3 linked regions of the Homo sapiens genome follow. The protein of the gene in region 2 interacts with the protein of the main gene of each other region in a pairwise test. Each region holds a gene or a part of one and is shown on either strand. Other genes may lie near its edges.

Region 1 (7,029 bases), on a different chromosome or scaffold from region 2:
TCTGTTAAATCCTTAAGCTCTTGAAGGCTGTGCATCTGCATCCACTGAATTATAGCAAGGTTTGTTTCTTAAGGATTTTAGCAGTACCTCCTGAGGAATTAAAATGTCATCCTTGAGTTGACTTCATAGAGATACATTGCTTACACTGAGAAGAAATGACTACTATTATTTTTTAAAGATAATATAAGTATTATATTTTATCTTAACCCCTTTAATGGGGTAGTTTGTGTAATTGGAAAACATGGGACTATAGTTGCATTGAATTCAAGGTGACATTTATTGAGACCCTACATTGGAAAAGGTAGGATTCTGATAATTATGTAAGATGATTAAGTGTTAGTCTTTACTGCCGTAGGAGCTCAGAATCCAGGAGCAAATATACATACATAATGGAAATACAGGACAGTCTCTGCTAAGTTCTGTAAAAACAAGTGCTATTGAAATTGAGAATAAAAAGAGTGTAAGTCTAATTAAGGGAAATCTGACTATCTTAGAATGCTTCCAACGGTAGGTGGTTATGAGCTGGGCCTTAAAGAATGGCCCCAAATAAGGAAGGTAGTTTTTGAGGAAGGGTTTTTCTGGCAAGAAGTCAGCCCAGTGGAGGAAGGTGGAAAGGAAAGTTTCAGGTGTATTCCATTACCTGGGAGCAGACATGAATGAATGGAATGTAAGAGGGTAGAATGGGAGATCGGATGGGAGAGTTCAGTTGGAGAGCATGTCATGGAGAGCTTTGAATGGCAGTCTGGGTAATTTTTTTTTTTTTTGAGATGGAGTCTTGCTGTGTTGCCCAGGCTGGAGTGCAGTGGTGTGATCTCGGCTAACCGCAACATCCGCATCCCAGGTTCAAGGTATTCTCCTGCCTCAACGTCCCAAGTAGCTGAGATTACAGGCGCTGCTACTTTGCCCGGCTAATTTTTCATATTTTTAGTAGAGATGGGGTTTCACCGTGTTAGCCAGGCTGGTCTCAAACTCCTGACCTTGTGATTCACCTTCCTCAGCCTCCCAAAGTGCTGGGATTACAGGCTTGAGCCACCACAACCAGCTCAGTCTGGGTAATTTTTAAAATGCAGAATCATAAAGGTTTTCGAGCAAGAGAATGATGTGTGATCAGCTCTAGGTTTTTGTTTTTTGTTTTTTTTTTTTTAAAGACAGTCTCGCTCTGTTGCTTAGGCTGGAGTGCAGTGGCACAATCTTGGGTTCAGCGATTCTTGTGTCTCAGCCTCCCAGGTAGCTGGGATTACAGGCATGCACCACCACGCCTGGCTAATTTTTGTATTTTTTTTTAGTAGAGACGGGGTTTCACTATGTTGGCCAGGCTGGTCTTGAACTCCTGGCCTAAAGTCATCCACCCGCCTCAGCCTCCCAAAGCACTGGGCCACTGCACCTGGCCCAGCTCTGGTTTTAAGAAGAGAACTCTTGGCTGGGCGCGGTGGCTCACGCCTGTAATCCCTGCACTTTGGGAGGCCAAGGTGGGCGGATCATGAGGTCAGGAGATCGAGACCATCCTGGCTAACATGGTGAAACCCCATCTCTACTAAAAATACAAAAAAATTAGCTGGGCATGGTGGCGGGCACCTGTAGTCCTAGCTACTCGGGAGGCTGAGCCAGGAGAATGGTGTGAACCCGGGAGGCAGAGCTTGCAGTGAGCTGAAGATCGTGCCCCTGCACTCCAGCCTGGGTGACAGAGTGAGACTCCGTCTCAAAAAAAAAAAAAAAAAAAAAAAAAAGGAAGAGAACTCCTTTTAGGTAGATTGGGAGAAAGACAGCAAGGGGATCTACTAACACTATTGTGTTTAACCAAGGGAGAAATGCTGAAAGCCTGAAGAAGTGGTAGGAGTAGAAAAGAGGGGCCGATGTGAGGAATGTCATAGATTCAACAGCTGATTGCTTCCTTGGCTGACAGCATACAGGAGATGAAGGAGAGAAAGGAGTTGACAGTCGTCTCAGGGTCTCTGGCCGGTTGTCTGAGAGAATGAGGTATACTGAAGGAGAAGCTGACAGGAAGGGAGAAGAGGGGAGATGATGAGCTCGATTTTATAGTTTAGAGCAAAGGAATCATTGGATAACCCAAAAGAGCTGTCCAGCAGGCAAAGGGAAATGTGGGTTTGCAGCTGAGAAGGAGGGAGGTAGCTGAATGTAGAGATCTGGGGATTGTTTGCTTGGATGGTGGCTCTGGGTATGGGGATGAATAAGATGCCTTGGTAGGGTGGGACCAGCAATACAGCTATGGGCAGAATCCTAGGAAACGGGCAGAGTTGAGGGATAAGCTGAGGAACAAGAGGGTGTGAAGAGCCGAGAGGAAGCAGTATGTGATAAAGGAGGACCTGTGGAGAGTTGTGTGAAGTGGGGAGAGAACTTTCCTGGCCCTGCCATTTATTTACCTGCCTTGCCATCGGCAAGTAGACTAAGCTCTTGGGCCTTACCTTCCAGTGAAATCAGAAAGTTAGACTACATAAACTTTACAGGCTCTTCAATGAGAAAAGATCTTAGGAAAAAAAATTGAAATCAATTCAAATGGATATTGTGGTTTTCTCTGAATCCCTCTAGCTGTTTGTTCATATCACTCATCTAACACTGAATACAGACTGCTGTGTGTTGATGTTTTATACTTCTGTGTAAACTTTTGAGCCGTGACAGATGGTGTCACTCCCATTCTTGATTATTCATTTGTTCACTCATTCATGTCTAACATATCTGCTGTGTGCATCCTACATGCTGCTATATACTCAGTGCTAGGAGCACAGTGAGCAAGGCACAGTCCCAGAGCCTCAGTGGCTTAGAGGGGTTAACTAACAAGAAAAAACGCAATTACAGCTCAGGAAGAAAAAGTTCCTATCCACAACAATAGAACATGTGTTGTATTTGAGTAAAAGAGAAAAAATGATTAGGAATCACTTTACTTAAATATTTTTACTGCTATAGGAAGACAGATGGCTTTCTTAACATATGAATCAAAAATTGGGGTGTTTTGATAAACTTCAAGTAATTTAAGAAAAGCCTAGTGAGTGATGTTGAATCACTTTTACCAACTGATAAAATATTTGAACTATCATTTTCACAATAACCATTAGTTGAATGATTCATATAATTGATATAAGCAGTGTTTCACAAGTACTTGAAACAAGTAAATCCTATAAAAATTCAACATATAAATAACTGGAAAGTAAAAAATGAGTTTTTAACAAGTAGGATAATTATTTTCTTGGATGTCAGTAACGAGAAAAATATGTGGAAATGAAGCAAAAATGCAATCTTCTAAGACTTTCCTTAGCTGTCAAAACCTAGGGAGGGCCAGGCACGGTGGCTCACGCCTGTAATCTCAGTGCATTATTTGAGTCCAGGAGTTCAAGACTAGCACCTGGGCAACATGGCAAAACCCCATCTCTATTAAAAATACAAAAATTAGCCAGGCATGGTGGTGCGCACCCGTAATCTCAGCTACAGTGCACACCTGTAATCTTGGCTACTTGGGTGGCTGAAGCATAAGAATCACTTGAACCCGGGAAGCAGAGGTTGCAGTGAGCCGAGATTGCGCCACTGCACTCCAGCCTGGGAGACAGAGCGAGACTCTGTCTCTAAAAAAAAAAAAAAAAAAACTGAGGGAGAACTTTACTGGTAAGAAGTTGTCTTCCACTCCTAAAGAGGAAATCACTTTTTTTTTTTTTTTTTTTAAGAGACAGGGTCTCACCGTGTTGCCCAGACTAGCCTTGAAGTCCTGGGCTCAAGCAATCCTCCAGCCTCAGCCTCCCCAGTAGCTAGGATTACAGGTGTGCACCACCACATTCATCTGGAAATCGCATTTCTGATTGTATTATTCTTTCTAAAGAGGGGCTTGCTTATAAGCTTTCCTTCTACGTTATAATGTGAGGACACATTGGGACACAAGCGTACAAAGTACAATTCATTCATTATTCAACACATATTTATCGAATTCTCACAAGGTGCCAGACAGTTGCCATTCTCCAATTAGGAATAGGTTAGTGAGCAGGACACAGTTCCTGTGCTGCCAGGAGGGAGAGAGAGACGATAAGAAACACACCTGGCTCACACCTGTAAGCCCTGCACTTTGAGAGGCTGAGGCAGAGGAGGATCTCTTGAGGCCAGGAGTTGTAGACCAGCCTGGGCAACAAAGGGAGACCCCATCTCTACAAAAATACAAAAATTAGCCAGTTGTGATGATGTGTACCTATAGTCCCAGCTTCTTGAGAGGCTGAGATGGGAGGATTACTTGAGCCCAGGAATTTGAGGCTATATTGAGCTATGATTGTGCCATTGCACTCCAACCTGGGTGACAGAGCAAGACCCTGTCTCTAGGAAAGAAAAGAAAAGAAACATTCCAGATAATGAGAAGTGCTATGGAGAGAATTAAAATAGGATGATGTGGTAGAGACGCCTGCCTGGCCACTTCAGGCTGGGTGGTCAGGGAATGCCCTTTGAAGAGGTGAGAGTAAGACAAGACCGGAATGACAGGAAGGACGCAGCTGTGCAGAGACCTGGGGAGAGGAGAGACTTCAAGGCAGAAGGAACAGCTCAGCGATAGTGCGCTAAATCTTTCCTTGCTTTAATTTGAATGCACTGACAAATCCTCCTCTTCCTTTGGGGCTCCAGCGAAAGGTTTTTAAGTGTAATTTTATGACTGATATTCCCAGAGAGTGAACTGACAGGCTAGGAGTGACGATAAAAGCGGGTGTGTGGAAGAAAACAGGGCAGAGACCAGGATGAGGCAAATGAGATGCTTCAGGCACAAAATGTAAGGCCATGCAGTGCAAATGACTCACAGAGTTCTGCCTCCCTGCATTTTGCACCCTAAGCACTTCGCTAGCCTCACTCTTGTCACAGCCCTGGGAAGAAGGGAGAAGTAGAGTTGTGAGATATGCTGGTGCTTTGAAGATCCAGCAGGTTTGGGTGTAGAGGGGGAGATAAAATGGAAAACATTAAAACAGCCTAGGAGGAGGACCGCCCCCCCCCCCCCCCATATACATACTTCCAGCCCCAGGACCCGGATCCCACACAGCAGCCCTCCGCCTGGGGGCACCCTTCACAGCTTCTCAGGATGATAGACTGTCATGCCCCACGAGTCTGGGTACGTTTCTTTAGCTTCTTGAGTTCATAACTGGACTGGCAGTGTGAGAAGCACACAAGGCCACCCTGTGTGGCACCTGTGACAGCAGGCATGCCAGATTGCCTGCCATTGGTTAAGGAGACAGCTGCCAAGACCTGAAGGGACACCACTGCTTATCGAGGGTATCTTTCTATAAGGATTCTACTGCTACCATCTTTTACAGATAGGTGTCAAGTAAAAGTTGTCTGTGTTGGGAAATTCCCAGAAAGGTGATCTGTTGGGTGAGTTCCTCCCTGGCCTCCTACAGAGCCAGCTAAGGACAAGCTGAAGGATAATGGCAGCATGGCAGGAACAGGCGATCTGAATTAGGTGACAGGGAATGATTTTCAGCCTCAGCGTTGCAGTATTGTGTGCCTGAATCAAAATACCACCACTCCCTATTTTTTGTGTGCTAAATTTTAAAGGATTATTACATTACCACACTGTGGAATCTCTTTTGTTTGTTATCCTTTAAAAAAATGCTGTTTTCTTTTTTTCTTTTTAAAAGAATATGGATTGTGCTCAGTTCCGTTTGAAAATAAGCTCTATCTAGTCGGCGGACAAACTACAATCACAGAATGCTATGACCCTGAACAAAATGAATGGAGAGAGATAGCTCCCATGATGGAAAGGAGGATGGAGTGCGGTGCCGTCATCATGAATGGATGTATTTATGTCACTGGAGGATACTCCTACTCAAAGGGAACGTATCTTCAGAGCATTGAGAAATATGATCCAGATCTTAATAAGTGGGAAATAGTGGGTAATCTTCCCAGTGCCATGCGGTCTCATGGGTGTGTTTGTGTGTATAATGTCTAATTGAATCTGCAGAAATGACCAAGCAATCACTTTTTTGGAGTATAGTTTTATAAAAAAAGAATGCAGGGTTTGAAGTTCCTTACCTGATAATTGTGTCTGGCACATGATAGGGGATCAGTAAATTGTAATTCCTAACCCTACTGTACTCCCAAACATGGTGATTCATGGTCAAGAAAAATCTTATATATATATATATATACACACACACATATATGTGTTCATATATATGTATACATATATATGTGTATATATACGTATGTATACATATATGTGTATATATACGTATGTATGTATACATATGTGTATATATAGTATGTATGTATACATGTATGTGTATATATACGTATGTATGTATACATATATGTGTATACATATATATGTGTGTATATATATACACATATATACGTATATATGTGTATATATATACACAGTTGAATCAGTGGGATTAATACCTATAATCTCTGGTTTTCAAAGGTAATATAGAATATTTGACACTTGGTAAAAGGTGAACTACCTTTGTAGTGAATCTTTTCCTCTTGGTAGCATCAACACTGGGGATAAATCAGAACCATTCTGTGGAATGAAATGTTTCTCAAGAGCCTATAATATAGTAGATAGTGCATATTAAGATGTCTGGCTGGGCATGGTGGCTCATGCCTGTAATCCCAGCACTTTGGGAGGCTGAGGCGGGAGGATCACTTGAGCCTAGAAGTTGGAGACTAACCTGGCGAGACCCTGTCTCAAAAAAAAAAAAAAATCAATTTAGCTAGCAGGAATTTGACATTTAAAGAGGGAATCTTCTCTACCTCTACAAAATCAACCCTTAACACTTTTTTCACCTTCAGAATTATTTAGAATGTGGATTTACTTTGTCTAGTTTTTTCCTTTATAGTGTAATTTATTGTTACTCTCTATTTACTGACTACCAGAGATATACAAAATACTGTGCAAAAGATTGTTACTGTTCAAAGAGCTTACAAACTAAATTTAAAAGAATAGCAAGTCTGAAAAATAGAAGATAGTCAAATATTTGTTTATGCTAAGAACTGTTTTTAATTTTCAGCTTTGATGTAAATTGCTAGCTTAGTTGTCTTTAGTTCAAGCATGTT
Region 2 (7,029 bases):
TGAGACAGAGTCTTGCTCTGTCCCCCAGGCTGGAGTGCAGTGGCAGGATCTCCACTCACTGCAAGCTCCACCTCCTGGGTTCACACCATTCTCCTGCCTCAGCCTCCCAAGTAGCTGGGACTACAGGCACCCGCCACCACACCCGGATAATTTTTTTTGTATTTTTAGTAGAGACGGGGTTTCACCATGTTAGCCAGGATGGTCTTGATCTTCTGACCTCGTGATCCACCCACCTCGGCCTCCCAAAGTGCTGGGATTACAGGCGTGAGCCACTGTGCCTGGCTGTTTTTAGACTTTTAATTCTGTTCCATTGATCTGTATAGATGCCTGTCCTTATGCCAGTACCACACTGTTTTGATTACTGTAGCTTTATAGTAAGTTCTGAAGATTTTATTCCTTGTTTTTGTTCTGTTCCTTCATTATTGACTTGGCTTTTTTGACAGTTTGATTATGACATCTAGGTGAGGCTGGCTCCCTTTTAGTTTATTTTACTTGGAATTCATTGAGCTTCTTGGGTGTAATTTTTTTCATGTCAAATTTGGAAAGTTTTTAGCCATTATTCTTTCAAATATTCTTTCTTCTTTTCTCTTCTGTATGTTGGTATGCTTAATAGTGTCCCTCAGGTTCTGTGACTCTGTTTATTTTTCTTCACTGTTTTTTCCTCCTGTTTCGCAGTTTGGGTAATCTCAATTGACCTGTCTTCAAGTTTGCTTGTTCTTTCTTCTAAATGCTAAAAAGTGGTTTTGAGCCCCTTTCATGAACGCTTATCTTTTCCCCCTTTTACTTTTGAACTCCAGAATTTGTATTTGATTCTTAAAAAAATGGTAATAATAATTTCTATCTCGTTATCAGTATCAATAGTGATACTGATATTTATTGATATTCTCTACTTAAAAGACGTTATTCCCATACTTTCCTTTAGTAATTTTTGCATAGTTTTCTTAGCTCTTTGAGCATATTTAAAATAGGTGATTTAGAGACTGTTTTCTGCTAAGTTCTTCATATGTGGGCTTCCTCAGGGACAGATTTTATTGATTGCTTTCTTTTTCCTATGTATGGGCCATACTTTGTTGTTTCTTTGTCTAATTTTTTTTTTTTTGCTGTTATTGAGAAATGGATTTTTAAATAACACAATGGGGTGACTCAGGAAATCAGATGCTCCTTTCTTCCCATGGTTGCTATTGGTACGTGATATAGTTGTTCTTGTTTAATGACTTTTCTGAACTAATTCTGTAAAGTTTGTATTCTTTATTGTGTCTGACCAGTGAAATCTGTACTTGGTGAACTTAGTGGCCAAGTAATTATTAGATGGCGATTTCCTTAAACTCCTGGGATCAGTAAACACCTGTTTTTGTCGAGGGGCTTCATCTACCTGTTGGAGCATACCTTCATTGCTTGGCCTAACAGTTAAAAACTGCCTTAGCCTTTATTTCCTGCTGATGTTGAGTCAAAGTCAGCCAGAGGTGAGAGCTTAAGGCCTTCTTAGGTTTTTCCTGAGTGTGCAGTGAAGCTCTGTACATTCATGTGTCTTTCTAGATTCCTGGGAAAATGTCAAAGCTTTTCAAAGCCCCCACGGACATTTTATTTCCCACCTTTGCCTTTGGTTTGCCTCAGTTGTTATCTGCCACCTCAGGAGGCTGCAAAGTTAAAACACTTGCCGTATTTTCAACAGACACTCCTGGGTTGGGAGGAAGGCTTTTCTGAGTTTAGCCAGAAACAGTCAGTCAGTCTTGCAAATGAGGTCTTACAGGGAACCATCAGACAGGTCAAATGATGACAGTTCTTTGAGAATGAAGCTTTGAAAGAGCTCTAAGAGCACTGTTTTCTCCAGCGATGGCTGCTACGCTGTACCAGGAATGCGGCCTGCTGAGAGCCTGGAGAGTGGGGATGGGTCTAGGCCAAATTAAAATATCACAGAGCTCACTGTTCTTACTGAGATGTGGTTGTTTTCCTTGAATTAATGCTCCCTGGGTTCCTGCAAACCTTTGGTTAGTTTCCAAAATCCATAAGAAGTTGATACTGACAATTTTTGCCAACTTTTTGGTTGCTTTTATGGAGGAGAGCTTTTTGGAGGCCTGTAGTAACCACCATTTTCACTGACATCCTTTGGATCAGGAATCTCTTAAATCTTTTTTGTTTTCCTGAGGGTTCTTGCTGCCCTTCTTTTTTATCTTGTTATCAAAAATAGTATACTTCATCATAACCTCAGAATTACCCAGATTCATTAATACTGAGTATTGTCTAGAAATCTCTTTCTGCCTGAACTCCACTCTAGACTGGTTATTTCCTGTTCTGCTGTATAGCTACACTCCTGGTATTTTCTTCCTGCGTTTATAGATTAAATGCAGTTTTTGGACTTGAGTTGGATATTCCTCTTTTTCAGTTTTCATCCTCATTTTGTTTTTCTCAAAGTGATATATAATGTAGAATTGTTGTATATCTTAAAATGCATTTATTTTAACTTTTCACTTATTTCTCAGTTTGGGTGTATGTAGAATTCTAGCTTAAAAATAATTTTCCCTTGTTAGGATTGAAAGGGATATCTTCTTACACTCTGTGTAATTGATTCTGGAAGTCTATTCCATCTCTTTGTGAGTAAGCTTTTTCTCCTCCTTGGAACTTTCAGGACCTTTTTAAAAACACCCAGTGTCATAAAATTTCATGAGTCTTTCATTCATTCTGCTTAGCTCTTGGTGGGACTTTTCAATCTGGAGGCATATTTTCCTTTGGCTCTGGAAAATTATCTTATTACTGTCATAATTTCTGGAATGCCAAATTGATTGCCTGAATTGATCTGTGTTTCTACCTTGATTTCTTTGACTTTATCTTCCAGCCTCTTTATTGAAGTTTAATTTTAGCTACTGTATTTTAAATTCTTGTGTTCTTTCTTTTTGGCCTAATTGTTCTATTTTCATATTTTATTCTGGTTATATGGATATAGTGTCTTCTCAGATCTCTGTGAAGACATAAAATAGAAATATTTTTGGATATCTTTTTTCCAAATTAGCTCTGTATTTTTTTTTAACTTGTTTTCATCTGCCTGTTTTTTCTCACAAGATGCAGTCTTCAGTTCTCTAGTTTTTTTTTTTTTTTTTTTTGAGACAGAATTTCACTCCTGTTGCTCAGGCTCCTGTTGCAATGGTGCAGTCTCGGCTCACCGCAACCTCTGCCTCCCAGGTTCAAGCGATTCTCCTGCCTCAGCCTCCGGAGTAGCTGGGGTTACAGGCATACAACACCACGCCTGGCTAATTTTGTATTTTTGGTAGAGACGGGGTTTCTCCATGTTGGTCAGGCTGGTCTCGAACTGTCAACCTTAGGTGATCTGCCTGCCTCGGCCTCCTAAAGTGCTGAGATTACAGGTGTGAGCCACCATGCCCGGTCTTTTTTTTTTTTTTAATACAAAAATATTTTTCTCCCATTCTCTTGAGTGTGGGACCGTATTGATGGGTTTGTCTACTGTGTGTCTGAAACCTGCTCGTCCCACCACCACCGACAGCTGAGTGGATTGACCAGTCAGCTTTGCTTTATAGGACATAGGGTCTTGGCATCCTAATGCTTGAGTGAGTAGGACTTCACTTGACACACAGGCATCCACACTAGGTCCTCAGACTGCTGGTCAGTGTCTTTGGAGCAAGGTCCTCCATTCTTCTGTAGCAAACAGAGGGATTCCTGTCCCTTTCAGTGGGGCGTCCAGGGCCACAGCAGTTCCCACATGTGCCCCTGGCCTTGCTCCTGCTCTGCATACCTGCCGACTCCCAACTGGAGCCTATGTAGCTGTGGCTTCTGGATGTCTCCTACCCTATAGGATTTGTCTCCTGTGCCCCTCCTCCTTTTGTCTTCTGCAGATTTGTTGACATCTCATCTGTTCCTGGCCTCCCTCTTCCCCCATTTTCACTGTCTGGGGTTTTTCTCTTCATGCCTATTATGCCTGCAGTTCACAAGAGGTCAGAGAGATGGCTGTCTGTTCCCAGTGTGACATCTTCACCTGGGACCTCTGGAAGCATTTCTTGTCTGGTTTTCTCCCTTGATGATTTGGTTCATTCCCCTGGGTAGGCAGTGTGAGAAGCTTCCCCAAATTTGGAAATTATTATGTTATATAGAGCTGGGTGGGAGAATTATATTTGTTAAGTGAGCTTGTTCTTGTGAAGGCAGGCTGAGGAGCCTTGGGCCCTCTGTGTCGTGTTTCCATTGCACACAAGTTCATGGTTAGACATGATTTGGCCCAACATGTGTCTGGATCATTTCAGGAGTGAGTGGATCTGTTGTTCCATTTGCTCACGTTCCTCATGGTGTTAGAAGGTAGGGAGTGAAGCTCAGTTGCCTATTGTTCAATAGGACTAGCCAAGTAAATACCCTTTTCCGTGGTAAATTCCCCTATGAAAGGTCATGCAAGTGGAACTGCGATCTCATGAGAGGATGCTTCCTTGGAGTCTGCATGTGAACCTGGCAGAGCCGCCTGTGGTTAGCAGAATATCTTCGCTGTGTCCCCCAGTGGGCAGCCTTCTGCCACCTTCTCCCCTCACTGCATGGCTCAGGAACTATCTTTCATTTAGTAACTATCTGATGGGCTGGATGTGGTGGCTCACATGTGTCATCCCAGCACTTTGGGAGGCTGAGGCAGTAGGATCACTTGGGGCCAAGAGTTCGAGACCAGCCTGGGCAACAGCAAGACCCCTGTCTCTACAAAAAATAAAAATAAAATTAGCCAGGCATGGTGGCACGTACCTGTAGTCCCAGTTACTCGGGAGGCTGAGGTGGAGGGATTGCTTCAGCCCAGGAGTTTGATGCAGCAGTGAGCTGGGATCACGCCACTGCACTCCAGCCTGGGCAATGCAGTGAGGCCGTGTCTCTTAAAGAAAAAGAAGAAAAACTGACAGCGGTGACTCCTGCACATCATTTCTCCCATTTCCATTTTTTATTTACGAATATTTAAACTACAGTTAGGTTATGGTATTGTATTTCATTGGAAATACTAAACTCCAGTTTGGAAAATCTATCAGTTTGGGTTGTCTTTTTTTCCAATCATTTTATAAGCGTTTAATGAGCCATCTACCAAATGACATGGAGAGTAGCTTCCAAATTATTTTTATTCCACATACCTATTAGAAAAAAGTTTTAAGTACTTGATCCCAGTGTCTTCTTAATGCATACATTATACAGATACAAAATGTAAATGGAAGTTCTGTTTTATTTCCTCTTCTAATTACTGACCTGTGAACCTCCTGGGGTATGCATACCCTGCTTTGGAGACTGCTGGCTGGAATACATGATATGAAGTAAAAGGAACCCTACTCCCACAGCTGCCAGTCCAGTTCTGGAGACGGACAAGTGGTGGGGCAGGGATAGGTGTTCCTAGGGCGGTGGGGAAGGCCATGGGGCCAGTCTCTGCCTAGGACAGGCTCAGAGGGAGGAGGGTGAGCTGAGGCTTTTAGAGGCTTGGTTTTGTAAAGAACCAAGACAAAATGCAAAACCATGTGCGAGTGTTGGTGGTATATTGGTGAGCATAGCTGCCTTCCAAAACCAAAGGAGTTGGTCTCATACTCTTGGATGAAGACCAGGCTATAGTCAACCAGGCAGTGCAGTGGCTCATGGAAGGAAGAGGTGGTGCTTGTCTCTTGTACAGCAGTCCTGGGGTGAGCAATTCAGGGTGTGCAGCCCCCTCAGCTTTCTTGGTTGCTGTGGTCCAGGGCTGGGCTCCTGCGTCTCCCAGGTAGCCACAAGGGGAGGCAAGGAAGAAATACCACTTGTCTCCTCTGCTCACTTTTTGCTGTGACAATTGGTCTCCGTTAACTGGAGAAGGGAGAAGAAGATTGGGTCACAGCAGCTTCCACCACAGCATTTTACGTTACCAGTTATGCTGAGAAAGATTTTCTGGTGGATTTACTAAATGAGCTGACATCTTCAGGTTGCTCTAGGTATAAATTAGGCTGGTATGGTTTTCTTCACTGAGATGCCTGGTGAGCCTGATGACAGCGCTGTAGTGTGCAGTCAGGTACCTTGGAAACCATCACCACTCCCACCGTACAGCACACCAGTGGTCACCCTGATAGGAGAGATGATTTTCTTCTGCTGTGTCCCCAGGTCTCAGTGGCCCTTAGCAGCAGCTCCATTCGTGTGGCCATGCTGGAGGAAAATGGGGAGCGCGTCCTCATGGAAGGGAAGCTCACCCACAAGATCAACACTGAGAGTTCTCTCTGGAGTCTCGAGCCCGGGAAGTGCGTTTTGGTAAGTTTGGGCACCTGTGTGTAGGGCTCCCAGGTGGACTTCAAACCTGCAGTGATGCCCCTTTTGACCAACAAGCCTATTTACACTTAAGCAGTGAGGTTGTTAATTTCAGCTGCTGGGGCAGATGGGTTTTCCTGAGCATTTTCCATACTGCTCAGAGATCGTCTCTGTGGGCACTTGAGCTTTGGCCCTTTGAGGTCTTGGTCATTCCCAAGAGCTCCACTGTTCTTACATCTAAGGCAAAAACAAGTAAATTGAAAATGAAAAGCTAGGTTGAATTTTTACAGATGCTACTCTGGAGGGTACAGAGTTAATAAATTCAGAGAATCAGGCTCATTGACCAACTGGCTGTCCTTAGCCAGCTGCTGGTTAGGCATAGCTAAGAGTTCAGGACAGTGAGATTAAGGTGTGACTCCAAATGAACAGCTCACATGTTACCAGTTAGCAGACTCGCTCACAAATTGGGCTGCACGCCTGGGCCAGATCTGTTGGTGGCTCAGCTCCTTCTCCCCTGTGAAAGCTTTGAACCTTGTCAGTGGTGGCTCTGTGCTGGTGCCCAAGTGGAGGTCACCTACAGATAAATTGAGGCACAACATGTTCTGAACTAACTTGTTTCCTTTTTTTCTCCTACTGGGGTGTTTACAGGGCATGGTAAAAGGAATAAAGGTGAAAAGAAAAATATAATGTCTGGACAAAAGTCTTTAGAATTTTATACAGATATATTCTTCATATGTGCAAAGTATGCAATAAAGGTATCTGTTTTGGTTTCTATAAGACATGCTTGGCAGGCTTCTGCCTGGGCTT
Region 3 (6,942 bases), on a different chromosome or scaffold from region 2:
TAATTTAGGAGAAAGGAAGGAAATGTGAATCTTTTTCTTCTCTGAACAAGGAAATAAGAATTTGTTAAAAAAAAAAAGATTGAGCATTGACAATTACTGATTACAAAATAAAATAATATTATAGTTTTAAATAAAAACATCTCCATGTGAACAAACTTCGCTTTGTATTTTAGTATCTGTTTGAGTAGGTTTGTACTGCAAAGCGGAAAAATGAAATCTCCCAGGCACCATTTGCCAAGGGATTTGCTCCCCTTCTTTGTCTGTTCAGATTAATCCGAGAGTGGCTGAGAGCTGCCCATTTTATCTCTGGGTTGAGGCAAAAGGGAGCAGTGTTTTCCAAAATAGCCCATGAGATGGCTGGACTCCCTCAGACAGGATTTGGGGGAGGACAAAGGAACCATGTGGGCATTTTATGTAGAGTATCTGGACCGGGTGCCCTGTCATTTGGAAGGCATCTGTTCCTGCCATTTGCACATCTTCCGGTAATCCTCCATTGATCGCCACCCCGCGTTCCTTCCTGCCCACTTGTGCCGGCCCTCCCCGCAGTGCCCTCTGACGTGAGGCCCTTCTTTCACTGCTCTAATTCAATGGCTTCTAATTGGATGCTCTGCCTGGCTAATGGCTTCTACCCAACTGCAGGGCTGACATTTACTTATTTGATTTCCACCCCTCCCTCTGCTCTCTGGCCTCCTTTGTGAGCAGAGCTTAAATTAGGCAGGATTTTAGATCCAGCACCTTTTTATATTTTGGTGTGGGCCTCTTGTTTTTTGAGCTGGGAGGGGTGGCTGAGTAGAGAAGAGCCTTGGAAATATACGCTGAGCTGATCAATCCTGAACCCTGCAGATAAACCCAGCTTTGTGACTTATCTGTGTCCCAGAATCCCAGCTGCCTCTGGGCTGCTTTCTTTGTTTGCATTTTAACCTGGACCCTAGCCTGCTAATTTCGGCTGGAACAAACTTTATTCTGTCACTGAATATCAGACCAATGCCAAAAGAGTCGTTGTTTGTTTTCATCACTGGAAAGGTTCTGGGCTAAATGTTAGACCTCTTCATCTCCAGGGTTTGACATTGAGAATTGTAATGTAGGGCTACAATCATCTTAGTGATTATCTTAGTTATCACAATCTGAACTCATCCTCCTTTCTTCCCTGTCCCTAGATATAAACATTTCTGGAGGGATGAGAGCCATGATCCTGAAAGGATTTCATCTTTGAAGCCTCTTCATCACCATCTTTGCATTTGCCTCTTTTTCTTTCTTTCTTTCTTTCTTTTTTTTTTTTTTTTTTTTGAGACAGAGTCTCACTCTGTTGCCCAGGCTGGAGTGCAGTGGCGCGATCTGGGCTCACTGCAAGCTCTGCCTCCCGGGTTCACGCCATTCTCCTGCCTCAGCCTCCCAAGCAGCTGGGACTACAGGCGCCCGCCACCAAGCCCAGCTAATTTTTTTTTTGTATCTTTAGTAGAGACGGAGTTTCACTGTGTTAGCCAGGATGGTCTCGATCTCCTGACCTCGTGATCTGCCCGCCTCGGCCTCCCAAAGTGCTGGGATTACAGGCTTGAGCCACCGCGCCTGGCCACATTTGCCTCTTTTTCAGTCTTGTAATCCCAAACAAAATAGAAGAGCCATCGCCCATCCATATTTGCTTAGAATGGATATTTACAAATTGAGTTTAAATTGTTCTCGGATGTGAAATATCTTATTTATTTATTTATAGACTTCACCCCATAGAACAAACAGAGACAAACAGCAAGCTTCCCTTTGGTTTGGGACCACTTGGCAGCATGACTCCAATCTCCACTATCACCCAAGCAGTTATGGTTCAGGCAAGCTGTCAGCTTGAGGTCTGTAGTCTATCTCCAGGGATTACTTTTACTTGATTCTTAATTACATACTATTCTCCATCCTCCCAGTCCCTTCACACACACACACACATACACACACAATTCCTCTTTAATTAGGTTGTAGCAGTCTCCTCCAGGTATATCTAACTCAGTTCATCATGGGCTGTTCTGATGGACAGCAGTCTGCCCTGGCCAACACTTCATTAGGTGTGACACCTTGCAGCCAATGGTCCCCAGGCCACCTTGTTCAGGAACCAAAGTGCAGCCCAGCAGGGCATCTGGGAGACAAAGGGATAGTTGTGGTGGAGAAGTAATAGTGATGAAAAGGCTTCCAGAACAGGAGTAGGAAGCACCCTGCAGTGCAGTTCACTTTCTTATACTAGGATATGAAATTAGGAGAGGGTTAAGAAAGGCAACTCATTTACCCAGGTATTGCCTTTGCAGGTGACAGATTGATATTCAAGACTCAGGAAATAGCCAGAATAACTGAGTCTCAACAGATAGCCCATTACCTACAAAATCAATATGGCCTCTTTCTTATGCAATGCTCCTTTTCACTTTTTTTTTTTTTTTTTTTGAGACAGGGTCTTACTCTGTCACCCAGACTGGAATGCAGTGGCATGATCTCAGTTCACTGCAGCCTCGACTTCCTCAGGCTCAAATGATCCTCCCACCTCAGCCTCCCAACTACCTGGGACCACAGGTAAACACCACCATACCCGGCTAAGTTTTGTATTTCCTGTAGAGGTGGGGTTTTGCCATGTTGCCCAGACTAGTCTCAAATGATCCTCCTACCTTGGCCTCCCAAAGTGCTGGGATTATGGGCATGAGCTACTGCACCCAGCAATTCTCTATTTTACTTCTTTCTTCTAACATTCACTTTCTCTTTCCTCTCTTCCTGAAAAGATGGCTAGGGAGGAAGAAGGGAATAAATATTTCCTATGTTCTAGACACTCATGGCTGCTTTACCTGGTGATATAAACCTATATTTTAAAAAGTTGAGGTATAAATTACACACAATAAAACCCACAGTTTGATGGTTTTTGACAAATGTATACACCCTTATAACCACCACTCCATCAGTTATAACGACATGATTCATCCTCACACTTAATCCATGAGAGATTGGTGTCACTGGCTCCATTTTATAGCTGAGGAAAGGGAGGATCAGAAAGATTAACAACAATAGCCATAACAATGGCAAATACTATGAGCCAGGTACTGTTCTAAGCACGTTACACATATTACCTCATTTAATCCTCTCTACAACCCCATTGGTCCCATTTTACAGACGAAGAAACTTGCCAAAGGTCACACAGCTAAAGAGTTAGAGCAGGATTTCTGGTGCTCAGATTACCTTATTTCCCTTACAGTACCTCCAGAGAATTTTTTTTAAGTTCCCTCATTAGATTTTCTTTTATCCCAGAGAGAAAAATCTCCCCAAACAAAACTAAAGGCCATCGGAAGGAAAGCCATATCGATGCTAGCCCCCACTCCATCCCCGGCTTTCTTTAAACTACGGGCAGTCAGATTTAACATCATGGATAGAAAGGTTGGTCTTGAAGAAAAGCCTTGTTTTGCTACCCATTAAACAGTGGGCTTTTCATCTAAGAAAGTCCTTCAAGCCTTCTGCCCAAGTAAAGTGATCAAATTCCCCTGAGGTTCAGCTTGACCTGGTAAAACACGTTGCTTTGTGGAACGAGTTTCGCTTTGCCAGCGGTGCTGAGCATTTCCTTGGGAATCTCGCACCCACGCTGGACCACACTGATGCCTCCTCTGTGCATAGAAAGGCAAAGGTATGGGGTGGCTGTTTGGGACCTTCATATAAAAAGGTCAACCCACTTCTCTGCCTTTTACCCACAGCCCCACCCCTGAGGAGGGAAAAATCTGCAATTGTTGGATTAGGGCTGAGGTGCACATTTGCCCTTTGCATAACTGGCAGCGTTGCAAAGGACAGCCCCTTTCTCTCTTCCCTCCATTCTCTCCCATCTGGCAGAGGAGTCCGGCTCCCTAAATCTTCTTTTTGTTGGTTAGTTTCCATGGCAGTTATTGTCTGTGTGTGTGAGCGTGTCCGCCCCCTCACCCGCTCTCCTCGCAGAGCGGGCCTTTGCAGCTGAGACTGGGTGGAGGGAGAGGCGCGGAGACACTGGGGCTCTGACGAGCTGGCTGAGGCCCTCTCAGTAGGGGGGTCACGCCTCCTGGAACTCAGGGACCCCAAGTTTCTGTGCATTCAGGGCGGGGCTGGCCCCATGCCCTGTGCATAGGGGCCTGGCTGCATCCCAGTCGATCAGCCAGAGGCAGCAGCAGTGGACTCATCAATTGTGGAGGAAGCCCTGGGGACCCTGGGGACCTTGCCGACTCTATTCCCAGCCAGCTCCTAGGACAAGCCTCAGAGCCAACACCCGCTCGACCCTCTCCCGGCCCCTCCCCTTCTTTGTCTTTTGCAGATGATCGCCGGGTGTCGATCCTTTTCCCTCCAGTCAGGTAAGTTTTATTTCAATCCATCTATGCAGAGTGATGCCTTGGCATTCTGAGGGCCTGCTGGTGGGGAGACAGGCAGTGGTGTCTGTGAGAGGAGGGCTGCCCAGGTAGACAGGCTGGCATGGGGGTCAGGAGGGACAAGGGTCTCCAAGGGCCTTTTCTCCTCAGCTGGGCCTCTCTAGCTTTGAAGTTAAAGGTTCCTTCCCATCTGGTTTTAACCCAGCTAATTAACTCCAAAGATTGCTGTCCAGGGCACAGACTGACCAACATACAGCCAACCTCCAGAACTTCTGGCTTCTGATCCGAATTCAGCTCAACTTTATGGAATATCAAACAGAAAACCAAATATTGCATATTCTCACTTACAAACGTGGGAGGTAAACCCTGGATGCAGATGGACATCAAGATGGGAACAATAGACACTGGGAACTCAAAAAGGAGGGAGGGGGGGAGGGGGACAAGGGCTGAGAAACTTCCTATTAGGTTACTGTGTTCACTATACAGGTGACGGGATCAATAGAAACCCAAACCACAGCAACACGAAATACACCCTTGTGACAAACCTGCGCACATGCCCCTGGGTCTAAAATTAAGATTTTTAAAACTTATGGACTACCTACTATGTACATACACATTGCTGTGCTTGGCTCCGAAGGGAAAGTGCTTTGACAGCAATGGCACATAACATGGTTCCTGCCTTCCGATGCTTACCATCTGGTAAGAAAGAATATCTACATAGACAGGTATGGGGATTCCGGGGCCAGGCAAGCTAGATGTCACATCCCTGTTCTGGCTGTGTGACCTTGGGCAAGTCATTTAACCTCTCTAAGTCTAAGTTTTCACCTTTGTACAATGACAATAATAATAGTACCTACTTTATAGGCTAAATTATACACACACACAACTCACACACACACCAAACTCTGATCAGTTCATGACGCATATTGAGCACCATATACTTGTTAAAGATGATTATTATTGTTATTATTGACTTTTTATGAGGTTCAAATTATACAAAATATGTAAAGAATGTAGTGTGGTGTTTAGAATAATGAGTGGTGGTTATTATCATGCTAACATAGTTATAGATGAAGTTCTATAGAAACGGGAAAAATGACTCTTGCCTGCAGGGATCATGCAAGGCGTGGAGGAGGCGGCATTCAGGCCAAGCCCTGAAGGATGAATAGAATGTCAACAAGCAGGAAGGAGCATGTGAAGCAGAAAGCACAAAGCCAAGTATGGAGGCAGGAAATGAAAGGCCTATTGGGCATCAGGCAATAGAGTGGTTTGGCTGGAGCCCAGGCATTAAGCCTGGCTGAGAGGCTGGACTGGACTTTGGGCTCCCAGCATCTTGAGGACAAGGGCCAAGATTAGGGTGTGACACTGTGAACACTGGAATAACCAGCCTAGCACCAGGATGAGGGGGAGTGATACACTTTATAGAGAGCCAGGCTCAGAGCCTGAGACCAGCGTTTGGGTCCTGGCTGAGCTTCAGATTGAACTGGGTGCTCTGAGGCTAATTGCTTCACCTCTCTGAGTTTGTTTTGTCACCTATGAAATCAGCAGGTAAAATACCAAGTGCAATTCTTCAGGAGAAAGGAGAATTTGTGCGTCATCTTCATGACCCTGGGAAATATCCAAAGGAATCAATCATTTAACAAAGAGACTTACGTAAATTATCAAGTGCAATGCCTGACTCATTATAGTAGTTGAATGAATGATCTCTCCCATCATGATTAATTGCCTTATTCATCCATTCATTCATTCATTCCCTCATTCATTCAGTAAATATTCCTTGGGTCCCCATTGAATGCCAGGCATTAGTTTTGGTGATGGGAAAGAGTGATGAATGCACCTGCCTTGAGACACTTATAAGCAACTGAGGAAACTGGCAACCCGAGGACTTCTGGGTGCTCCCACCCTACCCCCAGCAGCTTCCATCCCACTGGCCATCTTCCAATTTCTCTCAAGGATTACTGCTTACAGATATTTATTTTTAGCAGATTTTAGGCTCCCAAGACATCTCCCATATAGGTCTTGAGAACATCTCCTGTCTGCCCTCTGCTGGTGAGGGATTGTAAGCGCTTTGCAATAAACAGCTCAATATTCATTACACATCAATACCAAGCATTGCTGCTGTCCATCACCCCTGAGATGAACTGAAGTGCCTTAATATTTAAAGAGGAATGAATTTGTAATTAGTACCTAAAGTTACATCAGAGTCATTCAAGAGGTTTTCTATTTAAATGCAAATTTAATCTTTCCAAAGAAAGCTAAAAGGTGATGAAAATAGATAGCAAAGGTTGAGGAAAGAGGCAAGAAAAGGGAGATGGCGCTGATGTGGAGCTGTCACTATTGTTGGCTTGTCTGTGGCCCATGCTCAGGACCAGGCTCTGAGGTGGAGCGAGCTGAGGTGGGGCCTGGATCCCTAAAGCCTAAGTCCCAATTGCCCTGCCTGTTCATGGGGGTAGCCCAAACCAGCAGCCATTTGAGTGGGTCCTCGCTGGGCTGCTGGTGGTCATCTTAGAATCATGGTGGCCTGAAGAGGATATGGGCTGTGGGGTTAGGCAGATCTGAGTTTGAATCCAGCATCCTGTTCTGCCTAACTCTAATAGCTTTGGTG

What was found. The genes of interacting proteins can lie anywhere in the genome.
Region 1: the proteins of NUDCD3 (region 2) and KLHL23 interact in binary tests that used the Homo sapiens proteins (3 or more experiments, as listed by UniProt).
Region 3: the proteins of NUDCD3 (region 2) and KLHDC8A interact in binary tests that used the Homo sapiens proteins (3 or more experiments, as listed by UniProt).

The regions. Positions count from the first base shown.
Region 1 is NC_000002.12:169,743,813-169,750,841, forward strand, and holds part of KLHL23 (kelch-like protein 23), read left to right. Parts: intron 1-5,609; coding exon 5,610-5,920; 3' UTR 5,921-7,029. Other genes in the region: PHOSPHO2-KLHL23 (kelch-like protein 23), read left to right, coding at 5,610-5,920.
Region 2 is NC_000007.14:44,403,636-44,410,664, reverse strand, and holds part of NUDCD3 (nudC domain-containing protein 3), read left to right. Parts: intron 1-6,081; coding exon 6,082-6,225; intron 6,226-7,029.
Region 3 is NC_000001.11:205,353,913-205,360,854, reverse strand, and holds the start of KLHDC8A (kelch domain-containing protein 8A), read left to right. Parts: upstream 1-3,932; 5' UTR 3,933-4,322; intron 4,323-6,942.